Regions from separate parts of the Homo sapiens genome. Here all the other regions are reported to be linked to region 1. The links are microRNA targets in miRTarBase. Many come from high-throughput screens and were not tested one by one. Region 1 holds a microRNA gene; each other region holds the end of a gene's coding sequence. Distances are between the middles of the regions.
Evidence for each region. The annotated mature microRNA hsa-miR-7106-5p reads UGGGAGGAGGGGAUCUUGGG and lies in region 1 at 2,074-2,093, opposite strand. An mRNA with a match to its seed (bases 2 to 7 or 8) in the 3' UTR can be bound and repressed. Matches are read on the target gene's strand: a 7mer-m8 pairs with bases 2 to 8, a 7mer-A1 pairs with bases 2 to 7 and ends in A, and an 8mer does both.

Region 1 (4,397 bases):
TTGGTGGAGATAAAAAGTTTCCTTCTCAGCTGTTGATACGGTGATGAATATGAGGGGGAGCCCACAGATGGTTGTAAGTTCACCCTCAAGTTCTAGTTTTTACAATGGATCCATGGTATTTATTAAGTTCATATTCATAAAGAAGTTAATTAAAACAAAAGGAGAGCCACCCACGGAGATAAGAGTAGGTCACAAACCAATGAATATGACTGATCCAGTTACAAGAAAATAAAGCTGATTGATGTAAATGAAAATACTAATTGGATAGTGCAGGTGACAGCAGCGAGGAAGCTGTGAAGGTGTCTGCTCACGCAGCAGTTGGGAAGGTTGGCCTGAGGCTTTCAAAACCCAGAACGGTTTAGGATCTCAGTCACCACCTCTGGGAACCACCATCATCACTGTTCTTTTAATGAGGGGATCTCCAGTCCCCGCCCTACCTTTCGGCCTCCCCCGCGTGTTGAGGGGTGGGGGCTGGACAGTGACTCTGGGGCTGGGATGTGACTTCGTGCTGGGCCCCCCCAGGTGAAGCTGTTCATGCAGGACCTCTCTGCCATGCTGGCCGGCCTGGGTCAGGCTGAGCCTGCAGCCCCTGCCTCCTAGCCCTGACACAGGTGAGCAGCGGGAGAGGGAACCCCTGAGAGACCCTGAGATAGGAGGGCCCACATTTCCAATGGGGTGTGGACTGAGTGGCTCTTCCTGAATCCGTTTCCTCATTGGGAAGATGGGAGGGCTGTGCCTGTTCAGAGTGCTGTGGGCCTGCCATGAGGGGCACATAGCAAGCACTCCATAAATGCAGGCCCTGATGAGGAGGTGATGGGAAGGTCAAGGGGCTATGTGTGGGGCAACTGCCTCTAAAATGAGATCAGACCAGGCCCTCCCTGCCAGGGTGGTTGGGGCATGAAAAAAAACTCTTTGTCAGGTCTCAGAACAGGGTCCATGCTAGATGAGAGATCACCAAGGCCCCCTCCACTATGGACTCTGCCAGGTGAGGGGCCCAGCCTGAGAATCCAGCTGCTGGGGCTGCCCTTGACCTTCTCAGAACCTCAAACAGGGGGTGGGTGGCAAGAAGACAGAGGACAGGCCAGGTTCTGACCTCCAGGTGTGGAGGGGCCGCGTTAACCTCTTCATAGCCAGAGGGGAGCAGCTGTGTCCTTGCCCCCTGGGCTGGGCATCCTGTTCCCCTCCCCCAGCCCACTCCCAGCTGCAACCATGTCCAGTGGGAGGAAGGGGGACCAACTCCCGCCTCTGGCACCTGGTTTGTGCTCTGAGCTTCACTTTCCTCATCGCTAAATGGACAAGGCAGCAGAACTCACCCTCAGGAGACCCGCAACTCCTCTGCCACGTTAGCTGGGATTTTAGTACCTGGGTCTCTCCATTCCAGTTCCCCAAGTAGACCGCACTCCTGGCCACCAGCAGTGCTCAATAAAGATTTATTACATTAAAAATTCCATTGCCAAACCCTGAGGCACTCAGGGCTCTGACCGGTGCAGCCATGACCTCTGAACCCAGAACACATGGAAGCAGCAGCAGCTGAGTTGCCAACTCAAGTCTTGGCCTGCCTGGCTTTGCTGGCGAACTCCTGCACACCCTTCAAGGCCCTGTTCAAATGTCTCTGTCTTAGGCTGACGCAGCTGCTGCCCTTCTGTGGCCATACAGTGCTCCTTTTCACAGATGATGGCTCCTGCAGGGAGTGCCCCCAGTGCCCAGCACAGGGCCAGGCACACAGTGGTGCACGGGAACGTCTGCTGATGCCCACCCTAAGGCCAATCAAGGAGCCACGGGGCTGGGTCCTGGTCCTCACATCCTCTTCCGCATCTTGCCCTTCTTGGAGCGGGCACCCCGGCCGAAGGCGCCCTGCTGCAGCTCCTGGACGCGGCGGCGGTTGCGGGCAGAGAGCTGCTTGAGGCCACCACGCTGCAGGAAGTGCAGCTTCTGGGCCCGGCGCCGCTGCTTCAGGATCTGCTGCTTGGTCTTGAGTTCCGGGCGGACTCGGCCTGCAGGGGTGCCTGGGGCGTGGGGCCGGGATGCACCTGCTGGGACAGGGATTCAGGGAGCTCAGCTGTTGGGATCACTCCCAAGATCCCCTCCTCCCAGAAGCTTGCAGACTCCTCCCCTGCCCCTACTCCTGTTCTGTGCTTATTGCTGTGGCCCAGTGTCTGTACACAGTAGGTGGCTAATAAAGTTTTAGGCAGCCTCATGGAGTGGTCAATAACACGGGGCCAGAACCGCTGGGGTTCAAATCCCAGCTGTGACCTCTTGGACCGTGGGCAAGAAGTTAACGGCTCTGTGCCTCAGTTTCCCCATCTATGAATTATAAATCACAGCACCTCCCTCATGGGTGAAGAGTAAATGCATTTCCATGGTGTAAAGTGGTCAGAATTTCAAGGCCTGTCCCATAGTGGGAGCCTTTTGGGCATGACTGTTACTATTAAAAATTCTCCAACCAAGGAGTGTATGTCTCCACAGCACACCTACGGCACGCCAGGCTCTGAGGCCCCCCATAGTAACCGATACAGACCTCAGCCTCTGTCTCCATGGACACCATGCTCTAGGCTTGTTAGATGAAAAAAGAGTGTAGATGAACCTTCCTTTAGGTGGGAGAGGAATCAAAGAAGGCCAGAGAGGGAGAGGGACTTATCTGAGATCACACAGCAAAGCAGCAGCAGCAGCAGAGGTCAGCGACCCTGCCCCAGCCCCACAGGTGGGCATCAGGTAGTCCATTCTTCTAGTTCTCCGGGAGGCAAGCACCACCCTCCCTGGCTCCCACTAAGCCCTGTGTCCTCCTCCTCCTCTTCCCCATTCATAACAGCAGCCTCCCCAGGGCTCCTAGAGGGATGACCATTAAGGTGGTCCCAGCTGTCTCCAATGGAGCCAGGGTGCCTCGCAGGACCTATCACCTCCAATGAGGACAGCAAAGGAAGAACAGCTGCTTTTTCCCAAAGCCCACAGGTCGCCCCCGTCTCCCCAGCCCCTGCACGCCCACTGCACGGCAATGCTCGCAGCAGAAGCTGCTGTTTCACCTAGGTAAAAACAGGCTGAGAAGTGAGGTGTGGGTGGTCCCCACCCAGCCATGCTGACAAGGAGACACTCCCACAGATGGGAGAGCTGGAGAGGGAGGAGCCACAGAGAACAGGCCCAGGCAAATGCACGCAGGCTCACAGAGACACCCAGGGGAGGCAGTGACCAGCCCCAGGAGGTGGAGGGACACAAGCAGGGGCTAAGGCCATCTGAGAGAGACCCAAGACATGGTCCCAAACTCCCCTCTCCCCAGGGAAGACTCCAGGTGGGAGCCTTGGGCAGCTGGGTGACCCAGGTTCAGTCATAGCCCTCATAAGGCACCTGTTTCCTGGCCTGTAAAATGGGTATTCGCAGTCACCTTGCCTCCCAGGTCATGTGTGGCCTTCCAGGACAGAGCCTGCCTGCACCCAGCAAGCGGGAGCCCCTCCCTGATAACAGCCCTTAAGCACAGGCTCTGGCAGACAGAGCCGGCTTCAAATCCACCTTAGCTTGTTACTGGCTGAGGGACCCAGGCCAGATCAAAGAGGTCCAAGTCCTCAGATGACCAAATGTACCACTTGCCAACCCACATTTCAAGGAAGTATCTTCCTCAACATCCCCTGTGATCGCCTCCTCCCAGAACCAAAGCTGCTTCTGACTGCGTCTTTGGTGACATGAACTTCCCCACAGCATTGCTAAAAAGAACGTCACTCCTAAGGATGCCACAGGGAATCAATTCATGCTCACTGTCAGGTCGAACCACATGCAAATGCCATTTTTGCAGGTGAAAATGGCCTGCATTTGCACAAGGTTCCACCTCCCGGGTTCTCTAGGATTTTACACAATCGGCTTAATTAGGTGAACAGGGCATCTACCAGAAGTTATCCCTGTAGCTTCATCTGTGAAGTGGAAGGGGGTCGGGGACAAGGCACCTGAGGGGCATGGCACTTCCCAGCGCCTGTCAGGCGGTGCTCGTGACCATCAGAGGCCGGGACAGTAGGAAGGGGGAAACTGTGGGTGTGGGGGTTGGGTGGGGGGGATCATGGAGGGACCCAGGGTTTTGGCAGCATACCCCAACACACCCAGCTCTGGGGCTCTGCAGTAGCCCCTGCACCTGTGCCTCAGCGTTACCCTAATCTGACCACAACTGCTCTGCCTACCTGTGCACCCACACTCCCCACCCTGGCTCTCACCTTGGCCACGGTCTCGCTTCCCACCTCTTCGCTCTGGGCCTCGCCGGTCAGATGCCCCTTCTTCGTCCGAGTCACGATCATCAATTTTCTGTTTCTGTTTCCACTTCTGATAGCTGGGAAACCTCGTTAAGGAAGCTGCGTGAAGCCCCTGGGATGGGAGAAGGCTCCTCCCCACACTGCCCCAGCAGACAGAGTTCCGTTATCCCA
Region 2 (4,397 bases), not on the chromosome of region 1:
GTACCCAATGTTCTGCCTGTGGATGACATGGGTCAACAGCCTCCCATCCTCTCACAATGGCCCCAGCTTCCCTGGGCAATGCTGCAGACCACCCTTCTGTTGTGAAAGTCGCCTCGTCCTTAAGCACCTACACAATTCCGGATCACCTAGGTTACTGGCTCTCCGGCTTGAACGTGCAGCAGAGTTGCTCAGAGACCTGCTTTCAGATGATTCAGCTCTCCCACAACATTTGGGCCAGCAGGTCTGGGATGGGGCTCAGGGACTGGCACTTCTAACAAGGTGGTGCCATTGCTGCCATTCCCCGGACCCTGCTGGAGACCCACTGGCCTAGGTTATTCGGCAGAGTAATCAACAGTCCCTGACATCAGTGGCTTTAATAAAACAAAAATGTGCTTCTCCTGCTCCTGCTACCAGTTCTCACAAGCTGGCAGGGGGCTCACTCAGGGAACCTGCTGGTGACGTAGCCCCTCCACGAAACATGGCTGGTGCTGTGCCCGAGGGAACCACACCTTCAGACCGGAAGAGGCGAATGCCACGTGGGCTCAAGGTCATCGGCTGCAACGAGCCCCGTGCCTTCCCCGACCTCTAGCCACAAGGAGCTAGGGAGTCTAATCCTGCTACACAGCTGGAAGGGCAGTGCTGGAGAGCTTCAAGAACATTCTCGCAGGGTGCTGACTGCCAGGAGTGAAGAGTGAGGACAGTACACGGTGGTGTGGACACCCAGCAGTGGCTGAAACTCACTTCTCGGGCTAGTGCCCGGTTACGTTCTAACATCCTCCCAAGGGCACAAAGCTGTCCATGCCAGCCTTGGCCACTCCTGAGGGACAAGCTCCACCTAAGGACAGCCGGGGCCATCCCTTCCTTTCTCTGGGTGGCCAGTGTGGTTATCTCCAGAGCTCCTAGCGTCCTGGGACTGTGTGCAGTCCTGTCTGGGAGGGGCCTGGCCACACTTAAGAAGAGAGTCACTCACATCTGTTTACGGTGGAAACACCCAACTCGATTTATTGAAAAACTATTACAGTTAATTATTCCTTTGTTACACAAGTTTAGAATATTTTAAGATATCCTTTCCTGGGCATTACAGTTAAAACTTATGACATGTCTAGCGGATTTTTTGAAACCGTACAATGTGTCATTTGACATTGTATTTCAAAAGGCCTGATGTCCTCGAAACTTTATCTTGGGTTTTTTGCTTACCATTTTTTTCTTTTTGCCAGCGTTTGTCCAATTATATATATTGAGAGGAAAAAATAAAATTACACCAAAAGAATTTCTGCAAATATAAGAAGTAATTTTATTGCAATATACTGTGGCTAGAGTGGTCTGGGGAGAACGGGACACATTTTGAAGTTCAGTACAAATTATAACAACTTTGAAGGGACCACAGAGGAAGAAAATGACAGGAGAAAAGGACAAATTGGATGGGATGAGAAATGAAAACAGAATCACATGACCTAGACGCAGTCCACGGGGGTCGCGGGACAGTCCTCGGCTATGGCTTTTCTTTTGAAGAGATGAAGGTGACAGTCATTGGCACATGCTGGCATCCTGGGCTCCAGAGACTCTCCAAGCCAGACTTTTCTTTGGCAAGAGCGAGACTTACTTTCCAGGGAAATTTGGAAAATCCACGCTGGCGGTGTTTTGTTCCTCCTGGGTGGCTTGTTTGTGGCTTCCTAAGCTGGAACTGCATTCTGGTGGTGGTGGGGGTCGGGGACAGCACCAGAGCCCCGCAGGCTCACCCCAAGGGCCCAGCCTGCATTTCCCATGGTAGAAGGAAAAGGCGCTGCACCCGGGCAACTTTTCACAGTGAAGAGATCGCCTTTCCTGGCTGCCCCTCGGGTCCTCCTGCCCACAGACGGCAGCCCCCCGACCTCGATGGCCAGGAAAGGGTTCCCCAAAGGGGACCTCACCCGCCCCGAGCTCTGGAGCCGCTGACGCTCGCATCCAGGACATTTGAGATGGGAATCCAAATAGGCTACTTGGAAAAGACGTGCTGCAGGCAGCCCTGGAGAGACTCATGGAGTTCATTGTACATTACTCCATCTACCGAGGCAGCGCATGGCATGACTGAACGGCTTGGAACAAACACAGAAATTAGCACCACAAACATTCAGGAACCAAATATAATCTGCTATGGTCACACCACAGACAATGCAGGAAGAGGCTTTTTATTGCTTGTGTGTGTTTTCAAATCAAGTAGGCACAACCCAGTCCTCATAACAGCCCTCGGGAGTGGACGCACCGGGGCGGGAGAGCGCAGGAGGGAGTGTGCTTGGCTATCCTGCCCAGTGGAAAGGAAAGTGACGTGCATTGATCTTAGAGTCCTTGGCAACAGACTGTGGAGGCAATAACAGGATAAAGAAAGCAGGGAGAACGAGGCATGGCCAGGGTCCCCAGTGCGCCTTCAAGGAGACCTTAAAACAGATAGATAGCACCACAAGAGAGCCACAAGAGAGAAGTGTAAAAAATAAGCACCAATTTTCATTGAGTTATCACCTACAAAAAATGTGGTTTCCCTGCCCTGGACATTCTCCCATCAGGCTCTGCGGGAAGAAAAGCGGAAAAAGGAAGCAAATAAAATTAATCCAAACCTGTGTTTTAGTCTTAAGTGCATGTAGAAAAAAGAAAATTATCAAATTTTTTCCCTATTAAAAAAAAAAAAAGTCTAGAGCGAATCAAAAACTGTCTGAAAAGGGGCACTGGTACCTGCTTTTCAATGGCAGCATAAATTCTTGCTGCCCCGGGGCAAACTTCCAATTTATTGCACGTTCTTGGCCAGGGCGGGGGTGGGGAGACTTCCTATTTCTAATCAGAACGGTACTGCAACCCAGAATCCATGCCTCGCCCATTCTGTCCGTGGGACTGAGACTGGGTTTCCGTGCATGATTGAAAGCCAGGCACACTTAACATTTATAACAATACAATACAAATATTTACTTAAAACTCACAAAAACATAAGCACCTTTAATCCATCGGGAAGGCACCTGCAGAATGACATTTGGCCTCTAAATGGATCGTGTTGGAGGTTGTTAAAAACGGAGGCTTTGGTGATGGTGGGATGACCTTTACGAGGCTTACCTTGGAACATTTTTTGAAGGTCAGGGGAAATACACATCTTCAAGTTGAATTTAGAAAAAAATATAGTGTCCAAATCTGGCAGTCCCTCCCCCAACCCCTGAGACCTATTCACGAACAGGATGGGTCGGGCGAGCTGGGGGGCTGGAGGCATGGCCCCGCTCCCGGGGCGCGTGGGTGTGGACAGAGCGTGGGGCGGGCCCAGGCGCTGGGGTGCAGCTAGGTCATGTGATTCAGCTCCAGGTGGGGGCGCGGCTCCTTCCCTCTGTTCTCTCCGGGCTGGGGTCCCACACCCCGTGGTGCCGAGGCGTAGATGAAGTCAGGTGGGAGGGGAGGGAGAAGCCTTCACTGTCCAGGGTCAGGACGTGCACGGGACACTCACGAACGAATGGCATGCTGAGGTCACGAGGTTGCTCTCGGGAGCCCGGGCTCGGCGGCTCCTAGCCCATGAAGCAAGCCGGCCCCACTTCAAATCCAAATTTCTGTGACGCTTCACCGAAGTCATTGAACATGATGTCCACGATGGGCACCTGCTCCACTTTGGGGGTGTCGATCTCCAGAACCGTCTTCTGGTAGCCTTTCTTGGTCTGGGGAAGAGGGAGACAGATGGCCGGTGGTTAAGAACAGTTGGGGGTCTTGGGGTTTACCAATCACCCCCCACAATCTGTCTGGCTCCAAAACCCAGGCTGGTGTCCTGTCTCCTACCCAGGGCTGCGCTTGCCCGGGCAAGTGTTGGAGGAAATATGGCTGATCAGAGCATGCATTTAACCCCGGTGGATGTCCCAAGAGTCCCCCTGCACAGGTCGGAGGTGGGGTGGTGTGGGCATCAGCGAGGCGACAGGACCCTCCCAAGGCTTCAGGGGTGGCTGAGGCACACACAGGATTGAAGCTGATCAGCCTTCCCACCGTGCCCAGTCCAGACTCCTTGTGATGCCCCAGGTATTCACTTCCAGGCAGCCTCCCCAGGACCCAGGGCCAGCTACAGAACAAGCAGGGCACACTGGAAAATCAAACGGGGGCTCCAGGTTCGAAAAGGAAGGAGTCCGAGGCGGCACCGGCAGAGCCTTGAGCCAAGTAAGACCCCCCTACGACCACCTGCCACACACTGCCTTAGGCACTCGGTGGGCTGGGTCTTCACCTCCACAAGTATGGGAAGGGGTGGGGACCTTCCACACCATCTGGTCTAGAGGAGTCTTAGGTAAACTGAGGCACAGAGGGCAGGGGTAGTGCAATGAACCTGGCCTGCAGGATGAGTCAGCACCCATCCCTTGCTCAAAACAGCACAACCCTGGGCGCTGGGATGTGGGATGGAAGCCTAGGAG
Region 3 (4,397 bases), not on the chromosome of region 1:
ACCTCCCTCCCAACAGAGCGCTGCTCTTCTTGGGGCCCTCTCCCTCCTCAGATGGCTCCTCCTGTGTCTCTCATCCAGGCTCTGGGTGATCAGGAGAATGTGTGGGGCTGTACATGATGATGACCCTGATCAGAGCAGTGATGGCTGGGGAAGGTGTCAGGGAGGGATGCTGGAGAAGGCTGGGTTTTGGGTGTCAAGGATCCTGGACCACGAAGGGCTGCAATAGCAGCATTTCTCACTTCCCAATCTGTGTCTTGCAGAAGTGGCCGATGCGATCTCGTCTCTATGCTGGAGGCCTGGGGTACTCCGATCTTGACTCCACCACAGCCAGCACCCCCAGCCAAAGAACAAGAGATGCAGAGGTGGGGTCCCAAGTCCCTGGAGAGGCAGATGCTCTCCTTTCCACCACACCACTCTCACCAGCTCTTGGTGACAAATAATTATCACACTCGCCCTTTTCTCCTAGACTGTGACTCATGCTTATGGGCCTGGATTTTCTACCAGCCCCCAGATTCTCAGCCATCAGACTTGACTCAGACTCAGCTCCCAAGTTCCAGCATGCAGACCAAGAGAAGCAGTAGCACTTCTGTGATGGACAGTACCTAGAGGGGCACAGGTTGGAGAGCCTCCTCCTTGGTCCCCAGGAGGGGACTTCCCCATGGCTCTTCTGTGACAGCTACTGGGAAGTGGGAGAGAAAGAGGTATAATTGGGCTCAAAGTTGAGGTAGGGAACCACCCTAGCTTTCTTCCCCTAAGGTTTCTACAAACCCTCTGCAGATAGCAAAAAGGCAGGTGCAGAGGGAGGGGCCTGGGATGGCACCAGCCCCAGGTGCTGATGGGAAAGCCAGGTGGCCGGATAGGCTCCTGGTAGCTCCAAGTGTAAACAGATCTGGGCTGGGTCACACAGCCAGAGGGGAAACTGAAGAAGGAAATGTGCTTTCTAACTGCATCATGAGATGCTTACCTGATGTTAGAGAGATAGTGAGGAATTCAGGATTCCTCCCTCTGTAGTATGGGCCTTTCCAGAAGCTGCCCCTCACCACTACATTTTCTCTCCCTCTCGGCTCCTGCACTCTTCCACTCTTTTCTTTTCTTTTCTTTTCTTTTCGTTTCTTCTTCTTTTTATGTAGAGATGGGGGTCTTGATATGTTGCCCAGGCTGGCCTCGAACCCCTGGCCTCAAGTGATCCTCCCACCTCAGCCTCCTAAAGTGCTGGGATTACAGGCATGAGCCACCATGCCCAACCCCACTGTTTTCTTGACATGAGTTATATCTACAGGTTAAGCCATACATCTTGCATTGCTTACATTCCAGTTTCCAGAGAAACTTTTAGATAGTCCCAGATGCCTAGTTTGAGATCTTAACCAGAAGCAATTCTACCTTAATTGAACCAAGCAGCAACTTATGGCCTTAAATATGAAGGATATTGACAGAATCAATTACATCCTTGAAGGACCTTAAGAGAAGATCAGGTATATAGGGGGTGATCATTACAGTCTTCTCTTTCCATTATGTTAGAAACCTGCCCTCAAGCAAAAACAAGATAGGCCTGCCTTCAACTGCTCAACCACTCAATTGGCTCCTTGTAAAATTTGTGTTCGAGGCTTCCCTGGCTCTGGAGTTATTTCTATAGTCTATTAGCTCCCTAGGGCCGGCTCCGCCTCATGGAGATCGTCCTTGGGGGCTTTCTCTAAGTCCTACCATGGGGTGCCAGAAATGTGATATAGCTTCGGTGAAACTCATCTCTGGCCCTAAAGAAATAACTTGAGGACTAATCATAGAATCTACACACACTGAAAATAACTTTCCAGATCGGATGTAGCCTCAAACCTGGCACCTGAAGTCCAGATGGAACAAATTACCTTTCGGTTAAATTTCAGCCCTTCAGAGTGGGAGGGGACGGGCATGACCAACTAGAGTCCCAACAAGGTTATCCTTAGACACACACCATTGTTGTTATCATGAATGTAAGTGAGCTCTGGGCAGGCTGGGAATGGTTGGGGTCTGGGTTCTGGCATGACAGGACCCTGTACCTCCACAGGGCTGGCCAGGGCAGAGCTGAAATAGGGCTGGGGGTGCGACTGAGCCAGTTGTGGTAGAGGTAGAAAAAGAGACACAGAACATCCCAGCCCCGAGCTGCCTGGGATGTGGGAGAACAGCTGGAATGTGGATGGGAGCCATGGGGAGAAGGCCTCGGCCAAGGCTGAACTCGTAAATCTGCCTTGAACCACGTCTCTGCAGAGGGACCCTGAAGAGCTTGTGCAGAGCTGATGTGGGCAGCTGGACAGGGCCAGGCAGGGGCAGAGGCCAGGTGTGGGAGGGCATGAGCACAGTGTTCTTCACAAGACCATAAAAGTCCAGCTAGAATGTACTATTTTTAAAGCCAAACAGCAGTATCTTCCTGGTTGAGTTCACGGGAGTGCTAGGAAGAGAAGCAGATACATTTCCTCCTCAGTTGGTGGCACACTTTCCTGGGGATGAAGGGAAATTGGCTTGGGGTGTGTGTCGGGGTCCTCTGGATAGCATGGAGCTTCTCCTGATAATAGAGTAGACTTTGGGTTGGAGCTTGCCCCACCCTGTCCTGCTCAGACTCAGGCCTTTGCCTAGTAACATTAGAGCCCTCAGGGGTGACCGCATGGCCCTGGTGTAGACAAGGAGGGCACAGGAAGGATGACGCAGGTGGAGGGCTGCAGGAGGCAGGTCCCATCGCTACAAGTTTCTCAGGGTGTCTTGGGCCCTTTCCAGGCAAAGCTGTTCTCCTTTGTGCCCAGGACAGTCGAGGGGGGTGGGGCAGAGGCCATCTCCTCCAGCCACAGAGACCCAGCCCCGTCAGGCCAGCAAGCAAAGGGGCCTGGCAGGGGGCAGGGTGAGCCAAGGGAAGGCCTAGGGGATGGATGGGAATAACCAGAGGATGGACTGGGCCCTCCCTCCCTGACAAGCACAGTAATGCCCTTGAGACATGTCAGGACTTGGATGCGTGAATGAACCAGAAGTAACCCGCTTTGTCTCTGCAATGAGAAAGAAAAACACAGCCAGGCTCAGTGGCTCATGCCTGTAATCCCAGCACTTTGGGGAGTCGAGGCGGGCGGATCATGAGGTCAGGAGTTCGAGACCAGCCTCGCCAACATGATGAAACCCCTTCTTTACTAAAAATACAAAAATTAGCCAGATGTCGTAGTGGGCACCTGTAATCCTAGCTACTTGGGAGGCTGAGGCAGGAGAATTGCTTGAACCTAGGAGGCGGAGGTTGCAGTGAGCCAAGATCACGCCACTGCACTCCAGCCTGGGCGACAGAGCAAGACCCCATCTCGGGAAAAAAAAATGAAAGAAAAAAAAAGAAAAGAAAAGAAATAAAAGAAAATATGGATGAAAACATTTGAGCATGGATGACAAATGACACTAGGGTGGCCTGGCTCAGGAGTTGGAGGCTCAGCTGCTCCATAGGGGATTGGCCTGGCCTACCTGGTCTTCCTGCACCACCTGCCCCATCCCCAGGACTTGGGATTGGGATGGAGGTGGAGGTGGGGAACAAGACTTCCCTGCTGGCTCCCTCCACAGAGCATGTGCTTTCTGAGGAACAGGATGGCAGGGTGGAGGCTTAGATGGGGCTGTGGGGCTGGGTGTGGTGGCTGATGCCTGTAATCCCAGCACTTTGGGAGGCCGGGGTCGGGGGTGGATCATCTGAGGTCAGGAGTTCAAGACCAGCCTGACCAACATGGTGAAACCCTGTCTCTACTAAAAATACGAAATTAGCTGGGTGTGGTGGCACATGCCTATAACCCCAGCTACTTGGGAGGCTGAGGCAGGAGAATTGCTTGATCCCAGGAGGTGGAGTTTGCAGTGAGCTGAGATTGTGCCATTGCACTCCAGCCTGGGCAACAAGAGTAAAACTCCGTCTAAAAAAAAAAAAAAAATGCGGCTGTGGGAGAAGCAGAGCTGGCCCAGTGATTTCTTTTTTTTTGTTTTTTGAGACAGAGTCTCACTCTGTCACCGAGGCTGGAGCGCAGTGGCGTGATCTCGGCTCACTGCAAGCTCCGCCTCCTGGGTTCACGCGATTCTCCTGCCTCAGCCTCCCGAGCAGCTGGGACTACAGGCACCCGCCAACACGCCCGGCTAATTTTTTTTTTTTTTTGTATTTTTAGTAGAGACGGGGTTTCACCATGTTAGCCAGGATGGTCTTGATCTCCTGACCTCGTGATCCGCCCGCCTCGGCCTCCCAAAGTGCTGGGATTACAGGCATGAGCCACCGCACCCGGCTGGCCCAGTGATTTCTAAGTAATACAGTGGACACTGGATTTTACCAAATTGGGAACTAGAGAAGTAGAGGATCTAGCCTTCTCTGAGACTCCTTTTCTCTTCCTCTGGGAGGAGCCTGGCTAGGGTGAGTCAGATGGCAC
Region 4 (4,397 bases), 110 Mb from region 1:
TTTGTATTTTTAGTAGAGATGGTATTTCACCATGCTGGCCAGATGGTCTCGATCTCTTGACCTTGTGATCCGCCCACCTCGGCCTCCCAAAGTGCTGGGATTACAGGCGTGAGCCACCATGCCCGGCCTAATTTTTGTATTTTTAGTAGAGACTGGGTTTCACCATGTTGGCCAGGCTGGTCTTGAACTCCTGACTTCAAATGATCTGCCCACCTCGGCCTCCCAAAGTGCTGGGATTACAGGTGTGAGCCACCGTAGCCAGCCACTTAGCATCTTTACATGCACTACCTTACGTAATTGCCATAGGAATCCCATAAGGTAGATACACTATCATTCGTTTTACAGATGAGAAATCGGGGCTTAGGGAAGCAACTCGCCCAACAAACAGGTCGTGAGGTCTAGAGCTAAGCGCAGGCAGAGATAGAATGTGCAAAACCAAGTCAAGGCCTATCTGGGTAGGAACTAGACAGGGCGCCTCCATGAGCAAAATGGGTCCAAGGGGAAAACAAGAGGGTGGCTCAGTGGTCTACGAAAGTGGTTTCCAAGGGAGAATCGAGTAAGACAGTCCACTGAGGTATGGGAGGAGAACTTTTGCTTTTGTATCTGTTTTGTGTTTAAAATGAGAAATTCCAGCCTGGGCAACAGGGCGAAACCTCGTCTCTACAAAAAGTACAAAAAATTAGCCAAGCGTGGTGGCACGTGCCTGTAGTCCCAGTTTCTTGGGGGGCTGAGATGGGAGGATCGCTTGAGCCCATGAGGCCAAGGCTGCAGTGAGGTGCAATCGGGCCACTGCTCTCCAGCCTGGGTGACAAAGTGAGACCCTGTCCCCACCCAAAAGCAAAAGTAAAAAAGAAAAATAAAACAAGAAATTGTCTTGGGCCAGACTTGGTGGCTCACGCCTGTAATCCCAGCATTTGGGAAGTCAAGGCGGGTGGATTCCTTGAGCCCAGGAGTTCCAGACCAGCCTGGGCAACATGGCGAAACCCTGTCTCTACAAAAAATACAAAAATTGTCAGGTGTGGTGGTGTGCGCCTGTTGTCCCACTTACTACTTGGGGAGGCTGAGGTAGGAGGATCACCTGAGTCTTCAGAGGTCAAGGCTGCAGTGAGCTGAGATCTCACCACTGTGCTCCAGCCTGGGTGACAAAGTGAGACCCTGTCTCAAAAATAAAATAAAATAAAATAAATTAATAAAATAGAGACCAGGCACTGTGGCTCATTCCTGGAATTCCAGCACTTTGGGAGGCCAAGGAGGGTGGATCTCTTGAGGCCAGGAGTTTGAGACCAGCCTGGCCAAAATGGTGAAACTTGGCCGGTGCGATGGCTCATGCCTGTAATCCTAGCACTTTGGGAGACCAAGGCAGGCAGATCACGAGGTCAGGAGATCAAGACCATCCTAGCTAACACGGTGAAACCCTGTCTCTACTAAAAATACAAAAAATTAGCCAGGCGTGGTGGCATGTGCCTGTAGTCCCAGCTACTCGGGAGGCTGAGGCAGGAGAATTGCTTGAACTCGGGAGATGGAGGTTGCAGTGAGCCGAAATCACGCCACTGCACTCCAGCCTGCATGACAGAGTGAGACTCCATCTCAAAAAAAAAAAAAGGGTGAAACCCAGTCTCTACTAAAAATACAAAAATTATGGCTGGTCTCAGCACAGTGCAATCTCTGCCTCCTGGGTTCAAGTGATTCTCCTGCCTCAACCTCCCAAGTAGCTAGGATTATAGGCACATGCCACCACATCTGGCTAATTTTTGTATTTTTAGTAGAGATGGGGTTTTAACATGTTGGCCAGACTGGCCTCGAACTCCGGACCTCAGGTGATCCACCCACCTCAACCTCCCAGAGTGCTGGGATTACAGGTGTGAGCCACCGCACCCAGCCTATTTATTTTTTTGAGACGGAGTCTCACTCTATCGCCCAGGCTGGAGTGCAGTGGTACAATCTCAGCTCACTGCAACCTCTGCCTCCCAGGTTCAAGCGATTCTCCTGCCTCACCCTCTCGAGTAGCTGGGATTACAGGCACCCATGACCACGCCCAGCTAATTTTTGTATTTTTGGCCGAGACCGGGTTTCGCCATGTTGGCCAGGCTAGTCTTGAACTCCTGACCTCAGGTGATCCACCTCCCTTGGCCTCCCAAAGTGTTGGGATTACAGGCGTGAGCTACCGGGCCTGGCCTACTTTAAAAAAAATTTTAAAAAATGAAAAAAAGAAATCAGCTTGGGTGCTGTGGCTCACGCCTGTAATCCCAGCACTTTGGGAGGCCAAGGCAGGCAGATCATGAGGTCAAGAGATGGAGACCATCCTGGCCAACACGGTGAAACCCTGTCTCTACTAAAAATACAAAATTAGCTGGGCGTGGTAGCATGTGCCTGTAGTCCCAGCTACTTGTAAGACTGAGGCAGGAGAATCACTTGAACCCGGAGGCGGAGACTGCAGTGAGCCAAGATCACGCCACTGCACTCCAGCCTGGCAACAGAGTGAGACTTCGCCTCAAAGGAAAAAAAAAAAGAAGTCAAGCTAATGTATAGTATAGCAGTACGTATGTATAGCACAAATACATCATTTATTGGAAATTAAGTGAAAGATGTTTTATGGAGAAAAGATGCATGATTTACAAAGTTTTGGAGACCCCCTGGTCTGAGGCCTACCCTCCAGCACCTCTGTCTTTCCCAAGTTGAGAACTTACAAGTTCTCGGACAGAGGCACCACTCTGGTTTCATGTCGTGTCCTAATTCTGGCATGCCATCCTCTCACATTGCATCCAACCCAGAGGACGCAAAATGAATGCTCAGCATGTTTACTAAAACAGTGTCTCTACAATAAACACAGCAGGCCAACATGTATAGCTTTTATTTACCTACCCAAGTTCCTTTTACATGTGAGTTATCTGCATTCCACCTTGCCCCCTCTCCCAGGATGAATCCTCTTGGCACAGAGGAAGGGGTGCCCCTTCAACTAGGGCCAGAGCCTAGATGACCTGGTGGATCCCCCACCATGAAAAAAGCAGGAAGGGAATGGAGAAGAAAAGTGTTGATCACACCTAGCCCTCACCACAGGAGGGGGAATGAAGAGGTCTGGGGGACTGCCCCCATGCTATGCCCCAGTCCTTAAATACAAAGCAAGGAGAATGAAAAGGACCCTCCCTCTGAAATACAGCACCGACCTCAGCATGGAGGCAAAAGGACAGTGGGCAAGACCACGTCCCTCCGAAGGGAGAGGGCTGAAGGAGAGCACATACCGTTAGTGGCTGCGGCACCCCTCCCTACCAGGGTCTGATGCAGCCTCAGCACCGGGAGTGGGGAGAGGGGAGGAGAAGGGATGACAGCACTGTGCCATCCACTCCTCCCTGAACCCCTGGCCCCAGCACAGGCATTCCTCTGCCCACTAGCCCAAGTCAGGGGATGTGGAAGAAACTGTGTTGGAATCCAAGGCCCTTATCTATTTCTTCTTCCGTTCTTGGGAGCAGCGTGGGCAAAACCTGAAACAGAGAAGGGGAGAGAAAAGTGAGTGAAAGGGAGAATGCCCTTGACCACTCAACTTAGGGACCCTCCAACTCCTGCCACTTACCATTTCCCCCGAGGCTTGGTTGTCAGCCCCACACAGGCAAAATGGAACCACTCAATGGAACACTGGAAGAGGAAGAAAGAAGTAGTCAGGGGCCAGGAAGGGCCAGAGGAAGGAGAGAAAGCCCCTCCAGATTCCTTAGGAACATCCTGTCCTTTACTCCATCCTTTTGGAGAATTCTTGGAAGTCCCAAGGCCAACCAGTTCCCACCATCTTCCTTCTATTCTTTTTTTCTTTTTGAGGCAGAGTCTCACTCTGTTGCCCAGGCTGGAATGCAATGACATGATCTCAGCTCACTGCAACCCCCGCCTCCCGAGTTCAAGCTATTCTCCTGCCTCAGCCTCCCAAGCAGCTGAGATTACAGGCACAGGCTATCATGCCTGGCTAATTTTTGTATTTTTAGTGGAGACGGGGTTTCACCGTGTTGGCCAGGCCAGTCTCGAACTCCTGATCTCAAGTGATCTGCTCACCTTGGCCTCCCAAAGTGCTGGGATTACAGGCGTGAGCCACAGCGCCAGGCTTTCAGGCTTTTTTTTTTTTTTTTTTTTTGAGACAGAGTCTTGCTCTTGTCGCCCAGGTTAGAGTGTGGTGGCGTGATCTCAGCTCACTGCAACCTCTGCCTCCTAGGTTCAAGCAATTCTCCTGCCTCTCGCCTCAGCCTCCCGAGTAGCTGGGATGACAGTCGTGTGCCACTATGCTCAGCTAATTTTTGTATTTTTAGTAGAGAAGGGGTTACACTATGTTGGCCAGGCTGGTCTCAAACTCCTGACCTCACGTGATCTGCCCGCCTCAGCCTCCCAAAGTGCTGGGATTTCAGGCAAGAGCTACTACG
Region 5 (4,397 bases), not on the chromosome of region 1:
GGGCCACTGGCTTAGGTGTGTTGAGTGGGCCCCACCTCCTCCTCCCATGGGTCTTCTGCACCCACGTGTTTGCTTTGAGTCAGGCCCAGAGCAGGTCTCCTGCCTTTACATGACTGGGTGGATACCCCAATCTGCCAGGGCCCCAGGTTAATAGTTGACTGCAAAACTGGGATTTGACTCTGGAACTTGGGGCCAGGCTCTAGGGAAGAGCTGGAAAGAGGTGAAACAAGGAGATCGCTTTGGATCCAGGCCAACCGGAGGAGCCCTGTGAGGCGGGGAAGAGTGGGTTTCTGTGGCTGCCTGGGCATGAAGGCATGAAGCCTAACCCCATCCTCTGTGGCCTGGACCAGCCCTGTCAGGTTCTCCAACTTCGTGCATTGAGACTGGGTGTGTCCGTGCCTACGGGTTTCTGTGTGTGATTGGGGTTGTGCTTTTTGCACACATCTGCCTCTCTGCCCACTGACCTATTTATAGCAAGAACCCTGGGCAGAGTGCTGCTTCCCCTAAGGTAGCCCAAGTTGCTGGTTCCCACTGCCATGCTTTCTGAAAGGGGCTGGCAGCCCAGCAGCCCAGAGAGCCAGACCATGCCCTGGGGAGCAGCTGGCACTGCACTTTGTACCAATTTCTGGCACTTATGGAAGATAATACATGGGATTCGAAGGTAGAATGGGGACTCAGTAGGGTGGGTAGAAGGGTTGCTGCTCTGATAACTCAGCCCCTCCTAGGGCCAGTGCTAGGGTGGTCGAAAAGCCAAGGGACCCCAGGTCTGGGAACAGCCACTTCCCTTGCAGGCTTAGCTCAGAAGTCACCATCCCACTGCCCTGAAAAGTCAGAACTTGACCGGATGTGGTCGCTCACACCTGTAATCCCAGAACTTTGGGAGGCCGAGGTGGGCAGATTACGAGGTCAGGAGTTCGAGACCAGCCTGACCAACATGGTGAAACCCTGTCTCTACTAAAAATACAAAAATTAGCGGGGTGTGGTGGCACGCACCTGTAATCCCAGCTACTCAGGAGGTTGAAGCAGGAGAATCGCTTGAACCTGGGAGGCGGAGGTTGCAGTGAGTCGAGATCGCGTCACTGCACTCCAGCCTGGGTGACACAGCGAGACTCCATCTCAAAAAAAAAAAAAAAAGGAAAAAGAAAAGTCAGAACTTTGGTCTCTGCTTCACAGGAGCCACTCTAGTGAGTATGTTGGGGGAAGAGAGGCTGCCCCAGACCCCCCTTCCACCCCAGAAGGCCCTATGCTCTCACCAGGCTTTGGACCCAGGAGGTAGTGGGATGGAGAAAGGACCTGATCCAGAGGACAGATAAGTGGCCACCCCATCTCCGGGAAAGAATCAGTCCTGGGGGATAGGACCAGTGCAGGAGTGTGAAGGGGAAACAATTGGGAGGAGGGTGGGTGAACGTGGGGAGAGCAGAGGCCGGAGGGACAGGAGAGCCCAGGAGAGAAGGAAGGCGTCACCTGGTGGCCAGGCCTGGAACTGCAAGTATCTCTTCTGTGAGGCCTCCTGCCCTGTGCAGCAGGACTAGGTGAGGGATTGAAAGTGCCCTGACCTCTCAACCCAGCACACATCAGGGAGAGTTAATCCAGGTTTGCAGAGGAAGGAGAGTATGAAAGCCGGCAGGAGAAGCGGCTCTTAATGGAGAGGCCTCTTCTGATGGCCAGAGTCAGGGGCAGGACGGGGTCATTTCTCGGAGGTCAGGGCTCTGGTGAGCTGAGCATCCTGGGTGGTGAGTGTGTGCAGTGTGACGTCACAGGGACTGGGCAGAAGGGGCCCCAGGGGACCCTGGCAAGCAGCCACCAATTCCTTAGCCCTCCCTTCAGATCCCGAGCTCCGGACTGCAGACAGGGTGACTGGAGCCCAGCACAGCCCTCTCTTCCCAAGCCCCAAGTCTTCCCTTTCTTCTCAGGGCTCACAGTCAGAGCTGCAGAAATGACCAGGAAACTGGGTTTTTAATGAAGAAGGTGTGATGCCTGTGGACACTGTACACACATAGAAGGAGTGTGGCACAGGGCTGGAGGAAAGGTGTTCTCACCCCCTCCTCCTCCTCCACTTGTTACACCACGGGGTGGCTGAGAAGCCCCAGGTGCCTCATGGGTGGATAGAAGCCCACCCTGCCAGGGTGAGGTCTTCAGACACTCGCGTTTTTCCTGCCTCTTGGGTATCTGTTTAATCCCAGTTCCAGAGGAGGGCATGCAGGCTGGAGGGAAGAAGTGGGGGAGAGGTGGGAAGGGATGCTCCAGACACAGGCAGAGAGGTGAGTGAGCTGGGTTGGAGAAGAAGCATGAAGCAGGAGCTCAGAGCGCAGCACAGCAAGCTGGCCTGTAGGGACAAAGAGGCAAAGCCATCAGTTCCCGGGGACCTGTGTGCAGCGCATGAATCCCTGACTTACCTACAGCACATGCAGTCCCCAGGGCTTCTCAGCCCTAGCGCACCCCGGACTGGATCTTCATTCATAAGGGCTCCTACAAAACCTCAGCTTCTCGGCCCTCGGGCACAGTTGCTCCCCTTTTGGGACCCCTCACACCGCTCCTCCACACTGCGGCCCTCAGCTCTTACCTAGCCTTGCCATGCTACTCTGTGGCTGCTTAATTCCCACCTCCATGCTTCTGTTGCACCATCAGCCCTTCAACATGCCCTTCCCTTTATCAGCTAACACTCGCTCGTCGCATCCTCAGAGAGCTCCTCCTCTCCAGAAAGCCTGCTCTGACCAGTGCTGTCTGGTGGATGCCTGCCCTATTGCACATTCTCTCAGCACTTCCGTAGAGGGTTTTACGTGGCCTGATTTCCTTGCTTTGCCCAGTTTCTCCAGCTATTTCCTCAGATGGTGGGAAGTCTTAGCTTCTGTGAGTGGTAGCTCCTTGGGAACAGGTACTGTGAGTGCTGGGTACTTCGCAGGGAGCACAAATAAAGGACATCACCAGGAGGTATTTAAAAGTGCATAGATTCTCAGAAAGTCAGAGATGAAGGGATCCCAGGGACCCTCTAACCTAGTGGTTCTCAAACTCTCATGTGCATCAGAATCACCTAGAAGGCTGGCCTCACCCCAGAGTTTCCAATTTAGTGGATCTGGGGTGGGGGCTGATCATTTGCATCCCAGGTGATGTAGACGCTGCTGGTCCCAGGACCACACTTGGAGAACCACTGATTTGATACAGCCCCCAATTTCATAGATAATGGGAACAAAAAGGGCCGCCAAACAGAAATGACATGCCCAAGTATCATGGTGCTGGAGCCAGGACTGAGCCCAGGAGAGCCGACTCAAATCAGTCTCATCGGTGCCTTAGTCCGTGCATCCGTGCACCACACTAAGTACAACCCGCCTGCCCATTGTGGACTCCCTCATTATCCTCTAGACTCTGATGGACCCCAGAGAAGGGAGCTGGTCTCTAGGTACCTCTATTGTGAGGTCGGAGACTTGGCGGCATCAAACATCTTCTTCCGGCCTTCCATGCCAGACATGGCCTCCACGTTCTTCCTCCAGTCACCCACCTCCACAGGCCGCTCCTGTAGACAAGTGGCACACACATCAGGGACTTACCAGGCTGGACGGCCCCCCAGCTCAAGAGAAGCTGGGTGATAGGAAACCAGTCTCCTCGGATGATAAGAAATCCTGATGCCCCTCCCCAGCTGGTAAGGTCCTAGGACTCAGCCAGGCAGGTGGACACAGGCCAAGCCGAGGCCCCACAGGAAAAAGGAAGCTGTGTGGCTTGGGAGCACTGGGTGAAAGTGGCAGCTATGGGGCTAGTTCCCACCTCAGTGCACCTCAGCAAAACCTCCTCCAAGGCTCCATGCCACCCTCCTGGTCTGGCACTCAGCAGGCTCAAGGCCACCTCTTCCAAGAAGTCTTCCCCTGCAAATGCGGCTGCTTTTCCATTTCCTCAGTATATTGTCTGGCTTATCTCTTCTCCTCTGAAGCTTCTTGGGCCAGAGACTGTTCCTTCATCCCTGTTCCTTACAGAGCCTATCAATTTGGGGCACATATACTGTGAATTCAACCAACTTTGAATAATTTGTTGCTGGGTGGTTGAACTCAGTTCTCTAATGTCTATGCTCGTGTGTGGCTATAACCAAGATGAGCTGCTGTCTCCTTTCCCTGTGGTGACCAGGCAGTCATCTCCACCATTACCCTAAATCTCCACATTATCTTCACACTGGGAACAAGATTTTTACTTCATTTCTCCGTCTGGGGTCTAGCTTTCTTTATGTCCTAGTTTCTTCGTCAGACTGGGAACAGCCTGAAGGAAGGGAGCAAATCTTCTTTCTTTCTTCCCACACTGGTCTCCCAAAGCATTCTAGAATGTTCTGTCTGTCAAGCTGACTGGTCTCCAACAGGAGCTCCTGGGCCAGCCTGAGGCCATGTGAGGGGTTGACAAGGGGAAAGCTGGTAGGG

Region 2: the mRNA of COL5A1 is a reported target of hsa-miR-7106-5p. Seed matches in the 3' UTR shown: 7mer-A1 at 3,400-3,406.
Region 3: miRTarBase lists TCF23 as a target of hsa-miR-7106-5p. Seed matches in the 3' UTR shown: 7mer-m8 at 998-1,004, 8mer at 1,187-1,194 and 7mer-A1 at 4,213-4,219.
Region 4: miRTarBase lists ING4 as a target of hsa-miR-7106-5p. Seed matches in the 3' UTR shown: 7mer-m8 at 3,307-3,313.
Region 5: miRTarBase lists TNNI1 as a target of hsa-miR-7106-5p. Seed matches in the 3' UTR shown: 8mer at 1,388-1,395, 7mer-A1 at 1,043-1,049 and 7mer-A1 at 878-884.

Annotation. Positions count from the first base shown.
Region 1 is chr12:113,157,080-113,161,476 of GRCh38, forward strand. MIR7106 (microRNA 7106) reads right to left here and starts at 2,098; the gene lies at 2,034-2,098. CFAP73 (cilia and flagella associated protein 73) reads left to right here. Exons shown (of 8, transcript NM_001144872.3): 7 at 523-611; 8 at 1,622-2,197. The coding sequence ends at 600. DDX54 (DEAD-box helicase 54) reads right to left here. Exons shown (of 20, transcript NM_024072.4): 19 at 4,191-4,303; 20 at 94-2,030. The coding sequence ends at 1,798.
Region 2 is chr9:134,841,422-134,845,818 of GRCh38, reverse strand. COL5A1 (collagen type V alpha 1 chain) reads right to left here. Exons shown (of 66, transcript NM_000093.5): 66 at 976-3,662. The coding sequence ends at 3,516. The region is part of intron 1 of LOC101448202 (a long non-coding RNA gene); the gene reads left to right. Among named protein-coding and RNA genes, the nearest start is that of MIR3689C, 5.7 kb to the left of the region's middle. RefSeq lists enhancers at 34-534, 2,846-3,680.
Region 3 is chr2:27,152,428-27,156,824 of GRCh38, forward strand. It overlaps TCF23 (transcription factor 23), which reads left to right. Exons shown (of 3, transcript NM_175769.3): 3 at 261-4,397. The coding sequence ends at 440. Among named protein-coding and RNA genes, the nearest start is that of TCF23, 5.6 kb to the left of the region's middle. RefSeq lists an enhancer at 487-546.
Region 4 is chr12:6,647,756-6,652,152 of GRCh38, forward strand. ING4 (inhibitor of growth family member 4) reads right to left here. Exons shown (of 8, transcript NM_016162.4): 7 at 3,569-3,630; 8 at 2,546-3,479. The coding sequence ends at 3,440. Among named protein-coding and RNA genes, the nearest start is that of ACRBP, 2.5 kb to the left of the region's middle.
Region 5 is chr1:201,406,925-201,411,321 of GRCh38, forward strand. It overlaps TNNI1 (troponin I1, slow skeletal type), which reads right to left. Exons shown (of 9, transcript NM_003281.4): 8 at 3,402-3,511; 9 at 1-2,326. The coding sequence ends at 3,404. Among named protein-coding and RNA genes, the nearest start is that of LAD1, 9.8 kb to the left of the region's middle. RefSeq lists an enhancer at 1,348-1,427.